Homo sapiens: one gene and its partners. The protein of the gene in region 6 purifies or fractionates together with the protein of the main gene of each other region. This does not show direct contact. Each region holds a gene or a part of one and is shown on either strand. Other genes may lie near its edges. The genes, in order: TMEM68, SLC30A7, TMEM161B, USP34, TMEM87A, TSPAN8 and CPT1A.

Region 1 (3,500 bases), on a different chromosome or scaffold from region 6:
GTGGCACAGTGCCTGGAGTCTCAGCTACTTGGGAGGCTGAGTGAGAGGATCGCTTGAGCCCAGTAGAGCAAGGCCGTAGTGAGCTACTATTGTGCCCCTGCATTCCAGCCTGGGTGACAGAGCAAGGCCCTGTTTCCAAAAAAAAAAAAAAAAAAAAGGGATCCTATATTTTATCCTATTATGTATGAATCCTTCCCTGTTCATTCATTCATTATGAGAATGCATCTAGTTGAATCAGTGAACATTTAATATAATGTGGGGTGACAATTATTTTCTTTTCTTTTACTTTTTTTGAGACAGTCTTGCTCTGTTGCCCAGGTTGGAGTGCAGTGGCTTGATCTTTGCTCACTGCAACCTCCGCCTCACGGGTTAAAGCAATTCTCCCTGCCTCAGCCTCCTGAGTAGCTGGGATTACAAGCGTGCGCCACCATGCCCGGCTAATTTTTGTATTTTTAGTAGAGATGGGGTTTTGCCATGTTGGCCAGGCTGGTCTCAAACTCCTGACCTCAGGTGGTCTGCCCGCTCATCTTCCCAAAGTGCTGGGATTACAGGTGTGAACCACCACACCCGGTCTGACAATTATTTTAATCTTAATGCTATTTATAAACTTGCCTCAGATCTTTAATGAGAAGTTTGGTTGGTCTGCATAGTGTTTTTTGTTTTTTTTCTTTGAGACAGAGTCTTGCTCTGTTGCCCAGGCTGCAGTGCAGTGACACAATTTTGGCTCACTGCAACCTCCCCCTCCTGAGTTGAAGCCATTCTCCTGCCCCAGCCTCCTGAGTAGCTGGATTACAGGCACGTGCCACCATGCCAGGCTGATTTTTGTATTTTTAGTAGAGGCAGGGTTTCACCACATTGGCCAGGCTGGTCTTGAACTCCTGACCGCAAGTGATCCACCTGCCTCTTTCTCCCAAAGTGCTGGTATTACAGGCGTGAGCCACCGTGCCTGACCAGTCTGCGTAGTTTTTAACATCAAATGCATCGCTATATTTCCCATTCTCAGGGAATAATGTATACTAACATCAGTCCTCAGAAGTTCCAGTATGGGATTTGATTAAAATATTTAATTACTAACAGGATTATTTCTTTCATCCATAAACAGTTGTAATTTGAAAAGCTGTATAATATTAAGACTTGGAATTAGCTGCTCTTGAGTCAAGCACTCTCACTTTATTAAAATCTCTTAATGATGTTTGCTATTTTAAAAATTTAATTATAGAATTAGCATTATCTAACTTTTAATTTAAATAGATTTGATCATGGTCTTGCCAGTTTTGGAAGAGCTAAGCGTAGTTTGATTCACATTCTCCTGAGTGATTCTCTTTTTTATAGGGTTAATGGAAGATTAGATTTCTGATTGCTGATGGGATATCATTTCTGAATCCCATTAGAATCCTATCTCTGGAATCTCTGCCCTGCCACTTCTTAGATGTGTGACTTTGAGCAAGCTATTATTCTGTAAGCCCAAGTTTTCTCATTTGTAAAGTGGGGAGAAGAATACCTGTTTGTCAAGATTGTTGTGAGTTTTACTTAAGAATTTGAGCCAGAGAAGCTTAATATCAAGCTTAAGTTAACCTTTAGAGTTTTTGTTGATTTTAACAAGTAAAAAAGTTTACTGATTTAAGTATAAATAGTACACTATGTAGTTTGTGAAGATTTTTCTTTTGAAGAATTAAACAAGAAATACTTATGTTGTAACTTCATACTCATGTTTCTTACAGGGTTTAGTTTATTACTGGATGTGTTTTGTGCTCTACATGGACCAAGAGAAAAATGTGTTGAAATTCTGAGGAGTGGCCACTTGTTAGCTATCTCACCAGGTGGAGTTCGAGAAGCCCTAATTAGTGATGAAACTTATAACATCGTATGGGGTCATCGCAGAGGCTTTGCTCAGGTTGCAATTGATGCAAAAGTGGTGAGTTATATAAAATTAATTATTGAAGTAAAGCTTAGTCAAATTTAAAATAAATGGTTAAGTAATGAGCCAAATTGTATAAGAACTTAGACACTTTCGCTGCAATACCTTAAAAATTAGTATGTAGGCCGAGTGTGGTAGCTCACGCCTGTAATCTCAGCACTTTGGGAGGCCGAGGTGGATGTATCATGAGGTCAGGAGTTTGAGACCAGCCTGGCCAACATGATGAAACCCCATCTGTACTAAAAATACAAAAATTAGCCAGGCATGGTGGTGCATGCCTGTAATCCCAGCTACTCGGGAGGCTGAGGGAGGAGAATTGCTTGAACCCAGGAGGTAGTGGTTGCAGTGAGCTGAGATCGCACCACTGCACTCCAGCCTGGGTGACAGAGTGAGACTGTCTCAGAAAAAAAAAAAAAAAAGACTGGAGAATTTGAATGTCATTTTGTTCTTTTACTTTGCCTTCGGAAAGTATTTCTCAGCCTTTTGGTCTCCATATTGTACTTTAGCCTATGAAACACTTATCTATTACCTATGGAAAGTTTCTGCTTCGTTTTCTGTTTATTTTAATTCTGATTGTCAGAAAAAGAAATTACGTTTGATAGAGTATTGTTCTTTTTCCAGGCCAGTTAGAGAATATTGTCAGTAACTTAGTTTTTTAGTTGTATAGAAAATGAATTATGGCACATTTTACTTATTTCCCAGTCTTAAGCACTGACATAGAAAACAAAAACCTAGACTATATGAATAATATAGAATACAAAAGGATATATGCAGTTATACAAAAATTAAGAATAATCAATATAATGTATATGAAAACAATGATAAAAACTAAAATCCTAATCAAAGATGGTTCAACTTTCAAGTTTATATTTTGAAAGAATTGTTTTTTCAAAAGTTTAAGATAAAGATGACAAAAATAGATTTAAAATCACATAAATATGCCATGGGATTCCAATTCCTCATCCTTAAGTTTACATTTTCGGCAACATATTGCTTGGAAGAAGGACTGAAAGAGATAAATGATGCAGAGAAAATAACTCTTTCTAATCCTCGAGTTTCCAGATAATTAATTTAAATAAACTAGATAATTTAATTGAGATTTTTATATAAAACTTTAGAAAGTTTAAGAAATACCTTTTTATAAGTTTAAAAACAAACAGAAATCTTATAAGTTTGATAAATATTGTGCCACCCCAACATCTCATAGCACTTTTAAACACTTTATCTTATACTCCTATTCAGTAAGGAGGTGATGCATATAATTATTCCAATGTTGCAGATGAGGAGACTCAGGCACAGAGAGATGGAGGGATGGAAGGGATCTGGTCATTCAGCAAGGCAGCAGTAGAGCAGAGCACACAGTTCAGAACTCGAGGCAACCGGTACTGTTGCCATTCCTGACTACATTGCACAGTGAGTCTGCTGACGTCTAAGACTGAAGGGGCTTCCCAGATACGTGAGGGAAGTCTTTCAGTAATATATATGTGTATATATGTATAGTTGTAAGTGGCACAAGTATCCCCTCTGGAAAATCCCTTAATAGGCCTCACAAAATTATAAGCTGTGAACAAAATTTAAGGCT
Region 2 (3,084 bases), on a different chromosome or scaffold from region 6:
TACACAGAAAATTTTGACTTAAAACATCTGCTGAATTCCAAATTTCTGTAATAGCTACTGTATCTGTGATAAACTTTCCTATATCTTTCCTTGCCATTTCTATGGATTTTATAATGAAAGAAAAAGGCATTGGAGACTGAAGGCAGAAATGGTTGTGACAGTGCTGTTTGGCTTTTTCATTCTTCAAATGCCAAGTCATCCACTTTGTTTTCCTGTTTAGGCTTTGCACAAATACAATTGCTTTCAGGAATCCTAAAGCAGCATTTTATTGAGTTTGAATTATTAAAGGTACAGAGGAAATGTGGTGATGTAGAACTTTTCCTAACACAGGTATCTAGGAAGTAAGTGCTGAGTTGATTTTCTAGGTTCTTACGTATTTGAAAAATAAAATTGCAATTCGAGATAAGTGCTTGAGCACTCTACTTAAGTATTCTCTGTGTTTTATGAAGAGAAAATGATCTGATTTTCCCTTATACTTCATTTTACAATACATATTCCCTTTTAACTTAAAAAAATTGTAAATGTGGGAGAAAAAACCCTGCAGGATGGAAACAATTATTAAGAATGTAGATCAATAAGTACTTTTTAGTGATGTGGCAGAAATCCCTGTTGATTCTAAGTTTTAGAGTGTCTTTTCCCCTATTTCTGACCTACAACTATAAACTACTCTCTATTAGGAGAACTAGACCACTTTCTTCATTCTTTTCTAAACTGCTGCAGATTGCCGTGAACTCTATCAATAGTCTCTTTTCCGCAGGCAAAGTGGCATTTTCTAAACATGTTTGCTTACTGCCAGGTGGTTTGAAATCTATGATTTACTGCAGTAGTATGTGCTTAAAACAACTGTTGAGGTCTTTTAAGCAGGAAAGTTCAAAAGGAAGTGTCCTGATAATGGTACTGGTTTTTCTACAAATATAAGTAGTCATTAGAAGTTTGCAACCACCACCAAGTCTGAGAGAACTCTGGGATATTCTGTGGGTTTTGGCATATTAGATAGAGAAAATGACAGATCTAGATGAAGGGAGCTTTTGGATGTGTGCCTTTAAAAACTGATTATGTATAAATACTGATATTTCACATACGGAGATATTTGAAGACCCAAGTCTGCCTTTCACAGAGCCCTCCATTCCAAGTTTAGTTTTTGTCAAAATATGAATCATTTTATTTGACTGTACTATCAGTACACAAATGCATGAGTATGTTTATACAGTGTTAGACTGATGTGAATTTGCATTTGTTACATTACATTGCCAGCGCATATCATTTAGCAAGTTGGCATTAACATTTATGCTTTAATTAAATGCCAGTATACCTATGTGTGCAGCAGTAAAAAATTAGTGAGAAAAAGCAACTTTTTGTCACTCTTAGGAAATATTTTGTCTTATTAGTGTTCTTGGCACATGTATATTACTAAAGTAGATAATTCCAATGAGAAATACTACCAGATTATTGTTATAAAATTAATTTACAATGTCCCTGATATTGAGCTAACTCTTAAAAAAACCAAACAAAACTCGTATCTGAGTGTAACTTTGCCAATATTTTAAAAGCCAAAATATTCTCTGGACAACAAATTTGTATTGCTCAGGGACAGTTTACCTTGCCTGGTAAACCTTCCCAAACAGAAATATAGCTATACTATCTTTGGTTTTGTTTTTTTGTTTTTTTTGTTTGTTTGTATTAGATGGAATTTCACTCTTGTCGCCCAGGCTGGAGTGTAGTGGCGCAGTCTCAGCTCACTGCAACCTCCACCTCCCGGGTTCAAGTGATTCTCCTGTCTCAGCTCCCTGAGTAACTGGAATTACAGGTGCACGCCACCACGCCCGGCTAATTTTTGTGTTTTTAGCAGAGACAGGGTTTCACCACGTTGGCCAGGGTGGTCTTGGACTCCTGACCTCAGGTCATCCTCCTGCCTCGGCCTCCCAAAGTGCTGAGACTACAGGTGTGAGCCACCGTGCTCAGCCACTAGCTTTGGTTTTTTAAACATAGATTATATTCCTCAAGATGAAGGGCTTAACATATCCACAGCTTCCTCAGTTTGCTAACTCCCCATGCATCTTTGTGAAGGACAGTATCTAGTTTATCTGTAGGTCAGTGTTCCTTGTGCTGTCATTTCCCTTATATCTGGAATTTGTCAGCATTCCTGAAAACCTACACGTGTATATCAGTAACCAAAATGCTATGCCTTTTTTGCACCTTTGTACAGCAGCCAAATCATGAACTCAAAATGTATTTGATCACAGTTCTATAATGTTTTTACCTACCTATTATGGAATAATCAGTTTTTACAGAGATTATTAATATGGTAGAACCCTGTTATGTAATTCCAAAACTTAAGAACCATATTTACATTGCTTAACACAGAATTTTACATCTAAGCAAGGACTGGCTTTAGAAGCAGTGTAGTTCTACCTCTCATTTTACAGATGAGAAAACCGAAGCCCAGAAAAACTCTCATTTGCTCAAAGTCACAGAGAAAATTAGTGGCAAAGCCAAAAAGATTCAGATCTTCTGACTCGAAGTTGAGAGTTCTTTATACTCTATTATGCTGCCTCTCCAGTGTAATATTTGCCTTTCTGTAAATGGGATTAAATATGATTTGTAAATAAAGGACATCTGACCTCCTTTTTTGGTACATTAAGGCACTTTATAAATGGACTTTTATTGTCTCATTTTTCGTATATAATTATTTCCATCATATTCTTTATGGAAGATGCAATTAATTTTAACTTTTTTACTCTTATAAAACCAGTTCCTGACATTTTAAAAAACAATATCTGTAAAATGGATCCTTTTATGAGTGAATTTTTCTGCTAATTGCCCAAGGCTAAATCCAATTTAAGGATTGCTTAGTTTCTTTATTTTGTTTATGGTCTCTGAACTGGTATTTTTTTATAAACCAGGCTAATTCACAGGTCATACCATTTCATTCTTGTCGTGTTGGCTTCCAGTCACTGGAAAAGCTTTTGCATTTTAAAGATTTTTAGAGCCATGCAAAACTGGGCATTAAATGTTGCATAAAGCAAATCTTTTAAGTAAGGTAAAATGTTGAAGTCTTAACCAGAATTCCTACAACTAATTACT
Region 3 (4,023 bases), on a different chromosome or scaffold from region 6:
TTGGAAAAAACACAAAATTAAAAGTTGTATGAGAGTTTCACTTATTTGCATCTGATATAAATATCTATACATCTATAGAAAAAAAAAACCCTCATACACTCAGTCTGTGTCCCTTTTCCTGACATAAAGCAACTGGCCCTGTGCAAGCTTCTTTGGGATGGCTGAGAACCCCGATATATCGATATATTTATAGATAGACGTCTACATATCTATCCAAATATCTATATCTATCCATATATCTACCTATCTATCTATCTATATATATATCTATATCTATCGATCGATATCTATCTATATCTATCTATCTAGACTTCCCTGGTGAGGGAGTGAACCGCTGCCTGACGGGGGCCAAGACTGGCAGAGCAGAGACGCGGTTTGTACATGAGGGGAGGTGGTGGCCAGAGCAAAAGTGAACCGCAGGCTAGGCAAAGACCACAGCACACAGCCATACAGGTGTCCAGGACCGTCAGATCCCAGAGCATCTATCTATATAGATAGGTATCTATATGGAAAACGTCCATATTGGAACGTATTAAAGAGGCAGAATTTTCTTCCTGGGTTCTCTGCTCTTGGTAGATGTTCTTCCGGCTTCAATTGCCACCTGTGAATAGTGAAGAAACTTCTCACTATGAGATTCCATTGCCCGGAAGGAGGGTAGAGCTACGGTACCCACTAAGGCAGGGAACAGAAGCAACAGACGGACAGGTCTGTGGAAATGAGGATATGCTAATAAGGGACCGAGTCAGGAAAACTAGAGGGTAACAAGAGGGCGTCAGTTAAGCTGAGACAAAATGACGGCCAAAGGTGGTCTTTACTCTCTCTAAATCACCTGGGTCTGGAGTCGACTCCCATCGCGCACCCTCACTCCCACCCCTGGCCCCCTCCCGCCCCCCACCCGCCCCCCTCCCTCTCCCCTCCCGCTCCCCACACCAACGTGTGCCTCCGTCACCTCTCAGACAGTGGATGCGTTCCTGTTGAAACCACCCAATCTACCTCAGGGTCCTCGCAAGCGCAGCCACCACGATCCGCCCGCCCACGTACCTGTGCTGCGCCTGCGCCTCCTCCGCTCTCTCAAGGTCAGCACCGCCCCCAGCCCACAACCTGGCACCCACGGAAGTTGCTTTAGAGGACGTCCTGCGTATCTTCACCTCTGCGTGGCGTGGGGTCGACGGCGCTCTGGAGAAGGGAGGAACTTCCTGTCCCGCGCGCGCACAACTTCCGGCAGAGCCGGAAGACCCTCTCTTTCGCTGTTTGAGAGTCTCTCGGCTCAAGGACCGGGAGGTAAGAGGTTTGGGACTGCCCCGGCAACTCCAGGGTGTCTGGTCCACGACCTATCCTAGGCGCCATGGTGAGTTCTTCTGTGAGGGCAGGAGTGACAACGGTGGGGCGAAAAGGGCGGGGAGGTCAGTACTGTGAAAAGAGCCATCAGGTGCTCTGCTCAGAATGGAGTTGAGACGTTGGGATGAGCTGCTGGGTAGGACCCACCACCTATCTCAGGGTGTCTGAGCCCCTGAGGAAGCAGCATTACGCCTACCTGTCTGGGAGACTAGCGGGCCGGAGGCAGGGGCGTATCTGTCAGGGAGTATGGACTGGGTAGCCTGCCTGTTCATGGCCCATTTACTGTGTATGGCCTGTGGCGCCAGGTGATCCCAGAGTTGACCTTGCCGGGTCAGTCACCTCTTCTGCGCCCCCTTCTCCATCCGCGGAACAGTGGCCAAGAACTTCAGATCTTAGAAATGCTTTTAGCCTCTCCAGGTGGACACAACGGGTCTCCTTGTATAAGATCAACACCTGTCATTTAAAGAAACGGTAGTCCCCTTATTCTTTACACTTAGCCATTTCATAATTGAAAAGGGTGTCAAATAAAAAACCCGAGTTTAGTAAGGACAGACTTTATTCGAAAGGAATATTGCAGGGGTGTGGAGGAAGGTTGAAGGAACTGTTGCAGTAGGGAGAATGACCGTAAGATTTGCATGCACCTTAAAGGTTAGGCAGAAAGGGTTTGTCTTTTGTTGGTAGGGGTAAATAAGATGTCAGGAATTGGGATGAAAATATGGGTATGATCCGGCAGTAACCAGATAATGTTTTACCCTGAGCCCATGTATTCTGAGGAGGAGCTGTTAGGAGAGGTTTGTATATGTTGTTTCAGACTGAGGGAAGGACAAAATTCAGGTACCCGAGAGAAGAGAATCTTAAAGTTTGGTTAATAAGTATTTTGTTCCGATTGATCTGTGGGACAGGTACTTCAGCAAGTCATTTACGAAGCAAAGGATGGGAATTAGAAGGGTCTAGTTATGGCCTTGTTATAGGTAAACAAGGGGTAGGGGGGTATGGATCAACCCTTAGTCTTATCTAAGTTCTACAGGAAAGATGATTCTTTGCAGTAAGCCAATTTCTCAGAACACAAACGGGGGCAAGGGGTTTCTTAACCTTTGCTGTTTTTCAAGATCACGGGGCTCTGGTGAAGTTCATTATTGTCAGTTTCTTCACCGTATACAAGATTTCAAACCCTCACTTGCAGAGGCTTCTGTCCTGGAATTTAGCTTCAGTTTGTCTTATATTTTCAGGGCCAAATATTGCCAACATTCAGTTAATGTGTGTGGTGATTGGCTTTTGAATGACTTTTAGAAACTTAGCTGAATGTAGAACAAAGACCTTCAAAATAATGTAGTTCCTGGTGCACTTTACCAGATAACCTATCTCTTTAAAGTTTTTTTTTTTAAGCCTCAGTGAATAATATGGTTTGTATTAAGAAAGTTGTTTTTCTTTTGTATCAGTGAAATTAGACAAGGATAGGGAAAACAGAACTGGGAGAAACCAAAGCCTAGTAATCACTCTTCCATCCCCATTTTTACAGAAGAAAGAATCTGGGGTCTAGAAATTGACAGTGATTTTTCTAAAGTAACAGTAGTTTGGCAGTCTGGACTAAAACTCATATTTTCATTTTTTAAATTTAAGATTAATTTTTGACTTTTTGGTCTGAAAAGTTGAAGGTAAAGTATAATTAAAATACTTAAGTTCATCATAGTCACAGAAAAGCTGAACATGAACTTGTTCTCAGTGTTTTGGAATACTAGAAGTAGAATCCTGCTTATCCTGTCGGTTCAAAAGAGATGGTTAATGTTTGGAACTAATGTAATCTTATGCTGTTTTTCTGAATGTCATTTTGGAACTAACTAGTTGGCTCTTTTCCTTCTGGAAGTGCTTATATTTCTGAGCTAATTATCTTGGCTGAGTTTTATCTTTCCCAGCTATGAAATTGATAATGTCTGTATATGCAAGTGTGGTTAATGCTTGGAATTTTTCAAAGGGAAGAGTTTAACCATTAAATGAAGTGAACATGGGCTGAATTTATTGAGGATTCAGCTTGTTGAAATCAGAACTTGTTTTGCATTGCTGGGGCCTAATGATATTATGAAAAGAACATTAGTATTGACCCCAGAGGACCCAGATTCTGCCCATTGTTAGTTATATGGATTTGGAAAAGTCACTCAATTTTGATAAGAGTTCCAAATTCCTCCTGGGTAAGAGAAGTGGGACTTGATGGGTATTAAAGCACCTTCTTAAATTTATGATTCCATGACTACTCAACATTTTTGAGGATAGTTACATGTTTCAGATTAAATAAAAGTTAGTCTGATTTCCACTGTTTTGTTTCCATGCCATTTTGGCTTAAGTTTGATTTCTTTTATCATTCTCTTTTTCATTTTTTTCATAAGTCACATAGATAGTACTTGGAATCTTTGTATATTTGGCCAAGTCTTTCACTACTGTCTTAAATACTGCTCCAGAATGGAACACAACTCTTGGAATGTTTTGATTTAATTCTTGTTTTAATCAATGATAAACTAATTCTGTGCTCTCATTCTCTCATACATTATGTATACCGATACTCAATAGATACCTGTGCCTATAACAAGGTTTTTGTATTATGAATGAAGGAGAATAGGATTATGATCCAGACTGAAAATACTGAACTCACGCTTAATTTTTATGCTTTCAAGTTGTTGTGAAGACAAGTCT
Region 4 (3,500 bases), on a different chromosome or scaffold from region 6:
ATCCTGAGCAAGAAACAGAGGCAGAGGCACAGGCTGTGACTGGTAGACCAAGGCAGGTTTTTCCTAGTGTTAAGGATCTCAAGACCTGGGTCTTGGTCCTACTTGAATCCTAATTTCTTGACTGACCTTGAGTAATTTACTTATGACAGCTGCATACTTTAATAAGATATACACATATGCATATATATATATATATAATCTAAATTTTGTCCTATTTAAAAAATATATTGCTTTTTTCCATATAAATTATTAAAATGCACATTTAAATCTATGGAGTGTATCTGCTTAAAGACATACTACTTGTGTTTAAGAGCCATGACTATTTGAAAACAGGAAAACCAAATTTTAGTAAAATTTCCATATATTGAGACCACTGATTCTGTGTGAGATAATTAGGAAAGAAGATTTATTGTTTACCCTTGCAGTGTTTATGGGGGGAAAAGGTATTTACAGAATTACTGTTGCTAGCGAGAATATACAGTAAAGTTTAAAACATTTTGGAGAATTGATTTTGATTCTTAAAATGTGTCTTTTTGCAACATATGCTCTGGTTACCTATAAATACATTAATTTGGCCCTTGAAAACATTCACATCCTATTCTTTGTTAGCCTTATTTTTCCAGTCCTTGTTAACTCTCTCAGTGCTGGATAATAAACCTGCATTTCTTTTAAAACATTTGTTCAGTTTCGGCATCAGTGTCTTCCCCCAGCACTCCCTTAATCTAAATTAGTAACATTTTACTGTATGAAAAATAGTTGCTGTTAACTAAAAATTCAATAGGTGAGTTAGACATGGCTTTTCAAGTAGGATTTTCAGTGGCTTCAGATTCCATCATACACAAGTGTATGTTTTTTCTGTGTAAGTTTTTTCCGTGTAAGTTTTTTCCGTGCTCAACCGTAAGTGCTCAACCATCTTCTCCCCACTTTAGTCTGCTATGTCAAAAAACTGCATCAAGCTTTTGTGTGAAGATCCTGTTTTCGCAGAATATATTAAATGTATCCTAATGGATGAAAGAACTTTTTTAAACAACAACATTGTCTACACGTTCATGACACATTTCCTTCTAAAGGTACGTAGTACTTTGGAAACTCAGTGTGTCATTTCTAATTAGTTAATGCTTGTGGTTTCATTATGCTGGTCTTTTGGAGATTTTTTTAAATCTTCTTTTTCAGGTTCAAAGTCAAGTGTTTTCTGAAGCAAACTGTGCCAATTTGATCAGCACTCTTATTACAAACTTGATAAGCCAGTATCAGAACCTACAGTCTGATTTCTCCAACCGAGTTGAAATTTCCAAAGCAAGTGCTTCTTTAAATGGGGTAAGAACTATGCAGAGGCGGCGGCACACACTTTTAAACTGTCCTTCAGTTAACTGTGTGGCCTTCATATGATTTTACTCTCGTAACTTTAACTTACTGATTCAAACTCTTAAGCCATGTGCGACAAAAAAACAAGTTTTAAATACACGTTTACTATGCCTTGTATGTACACAGCACACTCTATCACCTTGGAAGCTACAAGCTGGTATCATTAAATGCTGAAAGGTAATAAAGGGAACATCTTAGTGGTCTTATCTCTAGTTGGGTATATTTTTGGAAACAATACTTGTGATGTTTCTATTACTGCCTATGGCTCCTATGTAACTGAAACAATTAATGATCTACTGATTTAAAAAAGGCAGTTAAATCTAGAGCATTAGTTGCCTTGTGCAGACTCCCATGACAGCCATGTCCTAGAATAATGGAACACTCTGGAAATGGGCTAGAATGTTGAGCAGCAGCCTCCCAAATCACAGTATGCATAAAAGCCAAAACAGATGACAGAGCTCAGTAAGGAAGACCTTACTATTTGTGACATCCATCAGAATTTTAACTTGAGAAACTGATTTCAAGGTTTGTTTTTAAAATTCTTATATTTCCTTTTCCATTTTTCAGAAAACACTATTTCAGGCTTTGGTCTGACTTACTGGTTCGTGGGCATAAAATAATGCTATTAGTGACTTTAAGAACTAATGAGGCTGGGCACGGTGGCTCATGCCTGCAATCCAAGCATTTTGGGAGGTCGAGGCCGGTGGATAACGAGGTCAGGAGATTGAGACCATCTCAATGGCCAACATGGTGAAACCCTGTCTCTACTAAAATAGAAAAAATTAAGCCAGGCGTGGTGGCGGGCGCCTGTAGTCCCAGCTACTTGGGAGGCTGAGGGAGGGGAATCGCTTGAACCCGGGTGGTGGAGGTTGCAGCGAGCCGAGATTACACCACTGCACTCCAGCCTTGCCAAAGAACAAGACTCCATCTCAAAAAAAACAAAAACAAAACAAAAAAAAAAAACAACTAATGAAATGCTGTAGTATCTTAACACTGGCTTTCTGGTTTTATCATTCTAAGAATCCCAGAGAAACCAGGGTATTCTTAGGAAAGAATGGATTCCTGGGAAAATAAACATCTGCAATTAACTGTAAACAACTGCATCAAAGTGTTGGCTTTAGAATTTGAAATGTTCCTATCTGGGTTTTTGTAGGACCTGAGGGCACTCGCTTTGCTCCTGTCAGTACACACTCCCAAACAGTTAAACCCAGCTCTAATTCCAACTCTGCAAGAGCTTTTAAGCAAATGCAGGACTTGTCTGCAACAGAGAAACTCACTCCAAGAGCAAGAAGCCAAAGAAAGAAAAACTAAAGGTTAGCTTTATGGACTACTATCATTACCTTTAGGGTGGGAGGAGGGAGTAATACACTTGGTGTAACTGGTTTAAGAGTTGTGTGTTCAGCTGAACCTCCTAAATATAAATGCTAGAAACAAAATTAACTTCCCACATCCCCCCCTAACGTGATCTTAATGACTTTCAGAGAAGTTTCCCTTTTGGCATGTGTTTTCACAGATGATGAAGGAGCAACTCCCATTAAAAGGCGGCGTGTTAGCAGTGATGAGGAGCACACTGTAGACAGCTGCATCAGTGACATGAAAACAGAAACCAGGGAGGTCCTGACCCCAACGAGCACTTCTGACAATGAGACCAGAGACTCCTCAATTATTGATCCAGGAACTGAGCAAGATCTTCCTTCCCCTGAAAATAGTTCTGTTAAAGAATACCGAATGGAAGTTCCATCTTCGTTTTCAGAAGACATGTCAAATATCAGGTCACAGCATGCAGAAGAACAGTCCAACAATGGTAGATATGACGATTGTAAAGAATTTAAAGACCTCCACTGTTCCAAGGATTCTACCCTAGCTGAGGAAGAATCTGAGTTCCCTTCTACTTCTATCTCTGCAGTTCTGTCTGACTTAGCTGACTTGAGAAGCTGTGATGGCCAAGCTTTGCCCTCCCAGGACCCTGAGGTTGCTTTATCTCTCAGTTGTGGCCATTCCAGAGGACTCTTTAGTCATATGCAGCAACATGACATTTTAGATACCCTGTGTAGGACCATTGAATCTACAATCCATGTCGTCACAAGGATATCTGGCAAAGGAAACCAAGCTGCTTCTTGACATTAGGTGTAGCA
Region 5 (3,500 bases), on a different chromosome or scaffold from region 6:
GTTTGGGATGATAAAAGTACTAGAGATGGGGCTCAGCCCGGTGGCTCACACCTGTAATCCCAGCATTTTGGGAGGCCAAGGTGGGTGGATCACTTCAGGTCAAGAGTTCAAGACCAGCCTGGCTAACATGGTGAAATCCTGTCTCTACAGAAAATACAAAAAAAATTAGCCAGGCGTAATGGTGTGAATCTGTAGCCCTAGCCACTTGGGAGGCTGAGGTGAAAGAATTGCTTAGATCCGGGTGATGGAGACTGCAGTGAGCCGAGATTGTGCCACTGCACTCCAGCCTGGCGGACAGAGCAAGAATCTGCCTTGGGGAAAAAAAAAGTACTGGAGATGGGTCGATGGCTGCACAGCAATGTGAATATATTTAATGCCACTGTATTATACACTTAGAAATGGTTAAAATGGTAAATTTTATGTAGTGTATATTTTACCACAATAAAAAAATGGGGGTTTGCTTTTTACACACAAAGCAAAGTACAACCTCTCTTTGATGAGTATGTATAAGTGGCTGACTATGTACCTATCAGAACATGCTTCCACTTACTTCTGCCAAAAGAAATACTTGAGAAGTCGGAAGTGGATACAGCCAAAAATATATACATTCCAATTTTTGCCTATTCTATTTATCTCCAATCACTTTCAAAGATTACCTGTGTTTTAAAGAGTTCACTGCAGTTCTGGAACAATTTTGATGATGTTTGATATTTCCCAGACAAGCCTCTTTTTTCCTTAAGTTTTTCCAAATACAACTCTACTTCTTCTGCCTGGAAAAAGAGATAATACAGAGTAGTTAACTCACCTTCCAAAAAATAAGATACTAAGAGCACAGCACAACAAACAGTTCACCTGCAGTACAGATACAATTTTGAGTTTGCTATTTTAAAAATGAACAGCATCAGATAAAGGCTCTATATAAAAATATCTAAGAATCAAACACTATCAGACTCAAGGACTATTAGACTCTAGTCTTTGGCTCACAAGGCATAGTTCTACTAACAATTCTGAGTAGACTGGGAAACTGCCAGAGTGTAGAGGGTTTTGTCACATTAAAATATACTTAAAAGATTTACTTGACCAAATTAACAACATCAACAAAAAAATATTCATGCTCATAAGCTAAGATAGAGCAGAAAATTGTTGCAAGCACAGAACTAGGATAATCTTCTTAAAAATGCAAATTGAGAGATAGAAACAGAATGGAAAAGGTCTGAAAAATTCAACTCAGAACTATATATATGTGTGTGTATATATATATATATATTTTTTTTTTAACTTTTATTTTAGGTTCCGGTATACATACGCAACTTTGTTATATAGGTAAACTGAACTCACAGGGAACTGTTTTACAGATTATTTCATCACCCAGGTACTGCCTAGTACTCAAGAGTTATTTTTTCTGATCCTCTCCCTCCTCCCACCCTCCACCCTCAAGTAGGCCCAGTGTCTGCCGTTCCCCTCTTTGTGATCATGTGTTCTCATCATTCAGCTCCCACTTATAAGTGAAAACGTGGTATTTCGCTTTCTGTTCCTGTGTTAGTTTGCTAAGGTTAATGGCCTCCAGCTCCTTCTGTGTTCTTGCAAAGGAAATGATCTCATTCTTTTTTATGGTTGCATATGTATCACATTCTTTTTTATGGCCGCATATGTACCACATTTATCCAGTTTACCATTGATGGGCATTTAGGTTGATTCCATGTCTTTGCTATTGTAAACAGTGCTGCAGTGAACATATATGTGCATATGTCTTTACGGTAGAATGATTTATATTACTTTGGATATATACCCAGTAATGGGATTGCTGGGTCAAATGGTAATTCTGTTTTTAGCTCTTTGAGGAATTGCCACAGTGCTTTCCACAGTGGTTGAACTAATTTACACTCCCACTAACAATGTATAAGCATTCCCTTTTCTCCACAACCTTGCCAGCATCTATTATCCTTTGACTTTCTCATAATAGCCATTCTGATGTGAGATGGTATCTCATTGTGGTTTTGATTTGCATTTCTCTAATAATCAACGATACTGAGCTTTTTTTTTTTCATATGCTTGTTGGCTGTATATCTTCTTTTGAAAAGTGTCTGTTCATGTCCTTTACCCACTTTTCTATGGGGTTGTTTTTTGCATATAAATTTGTTTAAGTTCCTTATAGAGGCTGGATATTAGACCTTTGTTGGATGCATAGTTTGCAAATATTTTCTCCCATTCTGTAGGCTGTCTACTCTATTGATAGTTTCTTTTGCTGTGCAGAAGCTCTTAAACTTAATTAGATCCCATTTGTCAATTTTTGCTTTTGTTGCAATTGCTTTTGGCGCAATTGCTTTTGGCATCTTCATCATGAAATCTTTGCCACTTCCCATGTCCAGAATGGTATTGCCTAGGTTGTCTTCCAGGGTTTTTATAGTTTTGGGTTTTACATTTAAGTCTTTAATCTATCTTGAGTTGATTTTTGAATATGGTGTGAGGAAGGGGTCCAGTTTCAATCTGCATATGGCCAGCACGCTACCGCAACACTATCTACTAAATAGGGAGTCCTTTCCCCATTGCTTGTTTTTTGTCAGCTTTGTTAAATATCAGATGGTTGTAGGTGTGCGGCCTTATTTCTGGGCTGTCTTCTCTGTTTCATTGGTCTTTGTGTCTGTTTTGGTTACTGTAGCCCTGTAGTACAGTTTGAAGTCAGGTAATGTGATGCTTCCAGCTTTATTCTTTGAGCAATATATTTTCAACGCTCAAGTATTCTAGATTATGGCAATTCTCAAAAGTGTGGCCGTTGAACCATAGACAAAACTATTTTCATGGCTGGGCACAATGGCTCACGCCTGTAATCCCAGCACTTTGGGAGACTGAGGCAGGTGGATCACCTGAGGTCAGGAGTTTGAGACCAGCCTGGCCAACATGGCAAAACCCCATCTTTACTAAAAATACAAAAATTAGCCGGGTGTGGTGGCAGACACCTGTAATCCCAGCTACTTGGGAGGCTGAGGCTGGACAATCACTTGAACCCAGGAGGCAGAGGTTGTGGTGAGCTGAGATCGCGCCACTGCACTCCAGCCTGGGTGACAGAGTGAGACTCCATCTCAAAAAAAAAAAAACTATTTTCATAATAATAATAGTATGCTATTTGACTTGTAACGATATTACAAAAGCAATAGTGGGTAAAACTGTTGCCCCTTATCAGGAACTAAGGCAGTGGCATTTAATTCTACTAGCAGTCATATTCTTCATAGTCACAAACTGGCAGTTTTTAAAAATGCCACTTTTATGTAAGAATATCCTAGATAAAGCAGTAAAAATTATTAATGTTATTAAATCTGGACCTTTTGAGTACCTGACTTTTTAAATAATCTAGGTGACAAAATGGAAAGCATGCAAAATACAATAAATTATTGTCTTGAGATAAAGCACTCTGCAATTGCTTTGACTTGTGAGTTAAACTAATCATTTTTTCCACGAAACACCATATTTACTTGAAAGAATGACTGAAAAACTACCATTAC
Region 6 (3,500 bases):
TAGGCTTTTAGTGGTTACTGAGGCCCTATTTGTGTAAGGAAAACAATGTGGTTGATTTATTTTCCCTAAATTTAGAGTTATTTAAAAATTAGAATTTGCAGCAGTTATATTGAGTGCTTGTTAGAAGATGCACATGAGACCAGGCGCGGTGGCTCATGCCTGTAATCCCAGCACTTTGGGAGGCCAAGGTGGGTGGATCACAAGGTCAGGAGATCGAGACCATCCCGGCTAACACGGTGAAACCCCATCTCTACTAAAAATACAAAAAATTAGCTGGGCGTGGTGGCTGACACCTGTAGTCCTAGCTACTCAGGAGGCTGAGGCAGGAGAATGGCATGAACCCGGGAGGCGGAGCTTGTAGTGAGCCAAGATCGCGCCACTGCACTCCAGCCTGGGTGATAGAGTGAGACTCCATCTCAAAAAAAAAAAAAAATAAGATGCACGTGAATGCAATCATGGAGACACATTGAGTGTACACTTAACACTTGTATCAGTCTGTTTTCACACTGCTGATAAAGACATACCTGAGACTGGTAATTTATAAATAAAAAGAGGTTTAATAGACTCACAGTTCTATGTGGCTGGGGAGGCCTCACAATCATGGTGGAAGATGAAAGTCCCATCTTACATGGTGGCAGGCAAGAGAGAGTGGGAGCCAAGTGAAAGGGGTTTCTCCTTATAAAACCATCAGATCTCATGAGAATTATTCACTACCACAAGAACAGTATGGGGGAACCACCCGCATGATTCAGTTATCTCCCACTGGGTCCCATGGGAGATACAATTCAAGATGAAATTTGGGTGAGGACACAGCTAAACCATGTCAACACTCAATACAATAAACACCATTAATATAGTATTGGGGGAACGTGCCCCCAGTATTTCAACGTAGGTTCTATTTTCCATAAGTGTCAGCTGGCTGAGAAATAAAGAGAAACAGTACAAAGAGAAGAATTTTACAGCTGGGCTGCCGGGGGTGACATTACATATCAGTAGGACCGTGATGCCCACCTGAGCCATAAAGCCAGCAAGTTTTATTAAGGATTTCAAAAGGGGAAGGGGTACAAGAACAGGGAGTAGGTCACAAGATCACATACTTCAAAGGGCAAAAAGGAGAACAAAGATCACATGCTTCTGAGGAAACAGGACAAGGACGAAATCAGAAACTCCTGATAAGGGTCCAAAAAAGATCACAAGGCAAAGGGCAAAAGCAAAGATCATAAGGCAAAGGGCAAAAGCAGAATTACTGATAAGGGTCTGTGTTCAGCGGTGCATGTGTTGTCTTGATAAACATCTTAAACAACAGAAAACAGGGTTTGAAAGCAGAGAACCGGTCTGACCCCAAATTTACCAGGGTGGAGTTTCCCAATCCTAGTAAGCCTGAGGGTACTGCAGGAGACCAGGGCGTATTTCAGTCCTTATCTCAACCACATAAGACAGACACTCCCGGAGAAGCTGTTTATAGACCTCCCTGCAGGAATGCAATTCTTTCCCCATAGTATTAATATCAATATTCCTTTCTAGGAAAAGAATTTAGCAATATCTTCCCTACTTGCATGTCCGTTTATAGGCTCTCTGCAAGAAGAAAAATATGGCTCTTTTTGCTCGACCCCACAGGCAGTCAGACCTTATGGTTGTCTTCCCTTGTTCCCTAAAATCACTGTTATTTTGTTCTTTTGCAAGGTGCACTGATTTCATATTGTTCAAACGCACATGTTTTACAATCAATTTATACAGTTAACACAATTATCACAGGGTCCTGAGGTGACGTACATCCTCAGCTTACGAAGATAACAGGATTAAGAGATTAAAGTAAGACAGGTGTAAGAAATTATAAGAGTATTATTTAGGAAGTGATAAATGTCCATGAAATCTTCACAATTTATGTTCCGCTGCCGCGGCTCCAGCCAGTCCCTCTGTTTGGGGTCCCTGACTTCCTGCAACAATATGGGGCTGAAGATTTTTTAAAAACCATGATTGCAGAGTCTGCTAAAAGTTGAAGATTTTAATTTACTCTGCTGGTTTACAGCATCAGAAAATCCAATATCGCATGAGGCTTAGTAGATCAGAACTACATCAGGCCATGCTTGTAAAGGGAATGCACATTCTACTCTTTTTTTTTTTTTTTTTGAGACAAGAGTTTTGCTCTTGTTGCCCAGGCTGGAGTGCAATGGCGTGATCTTAGCTCACTGCAACCTCCACCTGCCGGGTTCAAGCAATTCTCCTGCCTCAGCCTCCTGAGTAGCTGGGATTACAGGCACGTGCCACCACACTCGGCTAATTTTTTTGGTATTTTTAGTAGAGACAAGGTTTCACCATGTTGGCCAAACTGGTCTTGAACTCCTGACCTTAGGTGATCCACCTGCCTCAGCACATTCTACTCTGAATGAACTCTAAATCAGAATTGGTCTCATCTTTTTCAAGGAAATTTAGCATAAGACCTAATAAAAAATACTGTTGAACAAGTGAAAGATATTGCCACCCTGAAGACTTAGAGGACAAGCACACATCCCTGAAATAAATATTCTAGAATCCTGAAAAAATGTATGTAGAAATTGGTATCCACAATGTGATGCTAGAAAGTAACCTCTCATGAAACAGTGAATGGAGGCCATAAGAGAAAATAAAATTTATTGGAAAACAACGGGATGAGATAAAAAGGGAAATGGATAAAATATGTAAGGACTGCAAGTAAACTACAAACATAATAGCAGAATTAAACTTCACTGTAGAGATCACATTAAATAAAGACAGTGACATAGAATCCCAAACTGATAAGCTTTCCCACAGGAAAATCAAATAAGAAATCAGAATATTGTGAAAGAAGATAATAGATACAGACAACAGAGAATGGAAACCCAAAATAAGCTGTACTCCTGAAAAAGAGGACAAAATAAATGGAACACAAATAATAATCAAATTAATATATGGAAATTTTGTGGAGCTGAAAACATACCTGTATGCAGATGGCAAGTGCCTGATCTACCCCAGTGAAAGAAGACATCTATGCCTAAATAAATGTTAAGAAAACTACTAACTTAGTTAAAAGATAAATAAACATCTTACAAATGTCTAGATACAACTGACAAAAAAGAAAACAAGCAAATAATGCATGAACGAAAATAAGGCTGGTGATATTCTTCTCCTATTGTAACCCTGAAAGTCAGAAGACAATGAAACAATGTCTGCTGAGTATTCAGAGCCTTTCACAAATGAATAAGAGAGAAAGAGATCTTCAGGTATTCACACTGTAAAATTTACTGAAACATATCCAAAATGATTAAGGTATAAGTAAAAATGGATAATTGAAGCATGGGAAAATCATGGTTAAATGGCTAACCATTTTAGGTCTGGAAATAAAGAAGTCACATGTCTAAATAGTTATATTTTTTATTATCTCAAATGTAGATTGGAAGGATATTTGGAAAGAGATGTAATAGAAAATAGCAATTTAGTAACATTTACTCTGCGCTAAAGCCCAAGACTGATTACACTAAATA
Region 7 (4,019 bases), on a different chromosome or scaffold from region 6:
GTGGTGGGGGGCGGGATCAAAGGAGAACTTTCATTTTCTCTTCTAAATTCTTCTGCGGTAACAACTAAATGATACAGAAAGAAGGATGGTTGCAAACATGGATTTTTTCATAACTAGAAGAAGTGGTCGAACTTAAAAAGAGCAGGGTTCATAAAAGAGGTTTAAAAGAGTCTTTGTTCATAACATCGGTGCATTTATGGAGCACCTGCTGTATGCAGAGCCGCCAGCTCGCGCCTGGAAGCATTGCGGGCAAAGATAGGGGAGGGGTGGCTCCCGGTCAGGAAGACCCCCTTGGCCCTCCTGTTACGCTTGGGGCCCCTCTCCCTCCCCCTCAACCCCCTGGGTCCCCTGCAGCTGCGCTCGCCCTAGACTCCTGGGACCGGTGGATGTTCAGTTCCCGCTCCCGGCCCCTCTCCCGAGCTCCAGCACAAGGGTCTCTCGGTCGCTCTGCCCTGGCCTCCAGCTACTCCTCTCCCAGCACCTATTATGTTCTTGACGCTGGAAGAATTATTTTAGTAAATCTCACCAAAGCCCCCCAAGTGAGGCATTTTTATCCTAGCTAGATGAGGAGGAGCCACGCTGCCTCTGGATCGCGATGACTGCCACTCGTGGTATAAGGTCTGATTTGGGGCATGGGCTGTGGAATCAGATCTGGACCCAATGTCCGATCTATCACTTCCCCGCGCTTTTTTTTTTAGAGACGGGGTCTCGCTACGTTGCCCAGGCTGGCCTCGAACTCCTGGCTTCAAGCGACTTCCCGCCTCCCGAGTAGCTGGGATTACAGGCGCGCCCCACCACTCCCTGTGGATCGGTTGCTTCTCAGCTCGGTGATGTGGGGTAACTTATTTCCTGGCCCGCGACCCTTGTCTGCATGAAAGAGTCAGGGGTGAATACCATCAGGGGGTGCCTGGAGCATTACACGGGGCAATGCCGATAGATAAGTCGCGAGGATCAGCCAGGCACGGAGCTAAGCGATTTTATGCGCACGGCCTCCACGAGATGGCTCGTTTTACGGATGAGGAAACTGAGGCTCGGAGGGTGAGGAATCTCGTCCTAGACCCCATTCCGGCAGAGGTCGAGGACGCGAGCACCCGCTCGAGCCTCAGTTTCCCTCCCCTCCTAGCCCCGCGGACGCCCCGCCCCGCCGAGGCCCCGGGCCCGCCCTCCGCGCGCCGGGAGTCACCCGCCTGCAGGCGCCGCAGCCGGACCCGCCTCAGCCAATCCGCTGCTGCCGGCGTCGGGTGCGCTCGGCCTCGCCCGCGGCCCTCCTTCCCCGGCTCCCGCTCGCCGCTCGTTCACTCCACCGCCGCCGCCGCCGCCGCCGCTGCCGCTGCCGCTGCCGCACCTCCGTAGCTGACTCGGTGAGGCCCGGTCGCCCGCGGTGGGGAGGGTGGCGGGGCGGCCCTGCGGGCTGCGGGGGCCGGGGACGGGCGGGGCGCGGGGCTGCCGGGAACCGGACCGGGTGGGGGACGCCGCCGGAACCGGGGCGCCGAGAGGAACCCCGGTATTCCCCCCGGACGGCGGGGTTGTGGAGATCCTGAACCCAGAAAGAGGCCGGGGCTCCCCATGTTCCCCAGGGGATTGGGTCTGAGGGTCCACCGGGGGTCGGTCCATCCGCAGGCGGGTCCCGTGCGGCCGCGGGAGGGATGCTCGGCCCTCCGGACTTGGCTGGACGCCTCCGGCCCGGGGCCAGCGGGGCCACCGGCTCCCTTGTCTCCCACTCCTTAATCCGCCCTGGACTGGATTGAGTCTGAGGGTCTGCCCAGGGGTCGGTCAGCCTGCGGGTGGCCGCGGGAGGGATGCTGGACGCTCTGGATGCTTTCCAGGATGCCTTCGCCCGGGGCCAGTAGGGCCTCCGGCTCCTGTCCCTGCCCATCCCACCCTGGCTCTGGAGAGGATTGGGTCTGGGGGTCCGCCCGTGGGTTGGTCACCTACGGGCAGGTGCAGTGCGGCTGAGGGAGGGGTGCTCGGCCCTCGGGATTCGGCAGGGCGCCGCTGACCCCATCCCAGCGTCCGTCTCCCCGGTCCCCCTCCCCATGCCCGCCCTCGCGGTGCAGCCGTCGGGACACGCCCTTGGCGCAGGGACTCCAGGCGCGGTCCGAGCGCTGCCGTGAGCAGGATGAGGGTGCCGGGCCCAGTGCCTGCTTGGGAGCGCCCCGCAGCCTCTCCCGTGCAGCGCTGGGTCAAGGGCGGGTGGGCGCGGAGCATGTGCCCAAGGTCGTGCCGGGCTGGGAGCGGCGGGGCCGCGGGAGGGTGGGGGTGTCACGTGGCCGTGCCCTGGCGAACTTGGCCTGCGAGCCCGACGGTGCGGTCAGGGCCACGCGGGGCAGCCCCTTCTCGGAGCCACCGCCGCGGCCAGCCAACAGCCGGCTTCTTTCGGTTTGTCAGGAGAGGCCATGGGTCAGCGTCTTTATAATGTAAATCCGCCCTTGGCTTTCGTTAAAGCCGCAGAACTCAAAGATGAGGGCCGATCTTACTTTAAAAAAAGAAAACAACTCAGAGAGTTAAAAATCCCAACTACCTACCAGGTTAAATACATAACAAAGTTAATATTCCCAACTCGGCACAGGCTTTCGGTTCCTCTCGGCTCCGTGTGTTATAAAATATTTAAGGGCAGATTTTAGTAGGAAGCTGGTAACTTTGTAAGTTACCGAATAAAATGAAAATCGGTTTTACCTTTTGCAACGTTGTATTTTGTTACACCATTTTCTTCCACAGGTGTCCGGTTTCTGGTCATTCCAGATATGCAAGCATGTTTATTTCATTCTAAGCCACAAACCAAGTGAATAAAAAATGGCTGAGCACTGGTCTTCTATTTATGCCAGGAAGCACCCCCACCCCCGGGCCTTTCCAAATTCTTTAAGGCGACTCTGACCGAGTGAACGTAGCAATAAATTGAGGACATAAGTGTCGCTGAGAATGCACACCGCTGAGGCCAGCGAACATCCAGCTGTCAGTTGGTCTGGGGACTATCAGCATTCGCAGCTGGTTCTTTGGATTGGTTTTGCCTCAATACCAAGAGCCTGTGGACTGCTTTTCGCATGTAAATTACTGGTTTCCTTCCTGTGAAGCATTGCTAGCCTAGACCTTGCACTTGAACCCTATCTTAACAGTTGGAATCAAACAATAAAAAGGGCCAGGTTTGGGAGTGCACACACTTTGTTTCAAAGTGGCAGAAGTTGGCATCATGCACAGGCCAAAATAACGTTTCGAGTTGGTACTAAAAACAAGCCGCCTACCCTGGAGGGGAAGAGAATTAAACTGGGTCCCTTCCGATACTGCTGCGGCTGCTGCGTTTGGCCCCGGCCCCGGACCAGTGGTCACCGAGCGGTCAAGTTGGGCCTCCGGGGAGCCCTGGAACGAGGGCCTGCCCTTACCCAACCCTGGCCCCGAGTGCTCATTCATAAAAACACCGTCAGTTTTCACTGAGGCTTCACAGTGAGCCCCTTTTAGACGCGCCCTGGGCTCTTGAGCGCGGTGCCTGCGTTTCTGGCTCGTTGGATGCAGCATCTGTCATCAGAAGCACTGAGCACCGAGCTGTCCCCACAGCTGGGCACCGCAGGGCTCGACCTTCCCACGGAGAGGTGCGTTGCATTTCTCCCGCTGTCGCTGGGGTGGCCACAGGGACGCGCGCCAACTCGCTCCGGAAGGTCTCTGTGGGCACGGCGGGTGGAACAGGATCCGAGCGCCTGGGACGCGCCAGCCTGGGGGCGGGGCTGCTGCTGACCTTTCCCCTACTTTTCTCAGCCGTCACGTGACGCCGCCCGGGGCTTGGGGGAAGGGGCGGGGCGCGAAGCCGCAGTTGCTGGCGGTGCCCTTCCGAGGACGCTTTCCAAGCGAGCAATTAAACTTGCTGCCCGAAATCTAAAGGCGCAGGGGCGGTGGCAGCGGCGGCGGGAGGCGGAAACCGGAGCCTGCGCGGGCCAAGGGCTGCTTCTGCACTTTGATCGTTTGCATTTTTTCCTTTGTTGGAAAAAATGTTTAGTCACTCTGCATGGTTATTATTGGCAGGCCAGAAT

The links.
Region 1: the proteins of TSPAN8 (region 6) and TMEM68 purify together in Homo sapiens (affinity purification with mass spectrometry; one large-scale study listed by BioGRID and IntAct). This does not show direct contact.
Region 2: the proteins of TSPAN8 (region 6) and SLC30A7 purify together in Homo sapiens (affinity purification with mass spectrometry; one large-scale study listed by BioGRID and IntAct). This does not show direct contact.
Region 3: the proteins of TSPAN8 (region 6) and TMEM161B purify together in Homo sapiens (affinity purification with mass spectrometry; one large-scale study listed by BioGRID and IntAct). This does not show direct contact.
Region 4: the proteins of TSPAN8 (region 6) and USP34 purify together in Homo sapiens (affinity purification with mass spectrometry; one large-scale study listed by BioGRID and IntAct). This does not show direct contact.
Region 5: the proteins of TSPAN8 (region 6) and TMEM87A purify together in Homo sapiens (affinity purification with mass spectrometry; one large-scale study listed by BioGRID and IntAct). This does not show direct contact.
Region 7: the proteins of TSPAN8 (region 6) and CPT1A purify together in Homo sapiens (affinity purification with mass spectrometry; one large-scale study listed by BioGRID and IntAct). This does not show direct contact.

Annotation. Positions count from the first base shown.
Region 1 is NC_000008.11:55,749,379-55,752,878, reverse strand, and holds part of TMEM68 (DGAT1/2-independent enzyme synthesizing storage lipids), read left to right. Parts: intron 1-1,721; coding exon 1,722-1,915; intron 1,916-3,500. UniProt on the Homo sapiens protein: Catalytic subunit of the alternative triglyceride biosynthesis pathway, which mediates formation of triacylglycerol from diacylglycerol and membrane phospholipids.
Region 2 is NC_000001.11:100,976,090-100,979,173, forward strand, and holds part of SLC30A7 (zinc transporter 7), read left to right. Parts: 3' UTR 1-3,084. UniProt on the Homo sapiens protein: Zinc ion transporter mediating zinc entry from the cytosol into the lumen of organelles along the secretory pathway.
Region 3 is NC_000005.10:88,266,046-88,270,068, reverse strand, and holds the start of TMEM161B (transmembrane protein 161B), read left to right. Parts: upstream 1-1,223; 5' UTR 1,224-1,345; coding exon 1,346-1,348; intron 1,349-4,023. UniProt on the Homo sapiens protein: Essential for maintaining normal cardiac rhythm in the developing heart and for neonatal survival.
Region 4 is NC_000002.12:61,188,088-61,191,587, reverse strand, and holds part of USP34 (ubiquitin carboxyl-terminal hydrolase 34), read left to right. Parts: intron 1-929; coding exon 930-1,070; intron 1,071-1,173; coding exon 1,174-1,317; intron 1,318-2,518; coding exon 2,519-2,678; exon of another isoform or gene 2,679-2,878; coding exon 2,879-3,486; 3' UTR 3,487-3,500. UniProt on the Homo sapiens protein: Ubiquitin hydrolase that can remove conjugated ubiquitin from AXIN1 and AXIN2, thereby acting as a regulator of Wnt signaling pathway.
Region 5 is NC_000015.10:42,263,434-42,266,933, forward strand, and holds part of TMEM87A (transmembrane protein 87A isoform 1 precursor), read right to left. Parts: intron 771-3,500; coding exon 657-770; intron 1-656. UniProt on the Homo sapiens protein: Potential monoatomic ion channel gated by mechanical force, implicated in normal touch sensitivity through the generation of mechanically activated currents.
Region 6 is NC_000012.12:71,148,000-71,151,499, reverse strand, and holds part of TSPAN8 (tetraspanin-8), read left to right. Parts: intron 1-3,500. UniProt on the Homo sapiens protein: Structural component of specialized membrane microdomains known as tetraspanin-enriched microdomains (TERMs), which act as platforms for receptor clustering and signaling.
Region 7 is NC_000011.10:68,839,117-68,843,135, reverse strand, and holds the start of CPT1A (carnitine O-palmitoyltransferase 1, liver isoform), read left to right. Parts: upstream 1-1,219; 5' UTR 1,220-1,361; intron 1,362-2,718; exon of another isoform or gene 2,719-3,584; intron 3,585-4,019. UniProt on the Homo sapiens protein: Catalyzes the transfer of the acyl group of long-chain fatty acid-CoA conjugates onto carnitine, an essential step for the mitochondrial uptake of long-chain fatty acids and their subsequent beta-oxidation in the mitochondrion.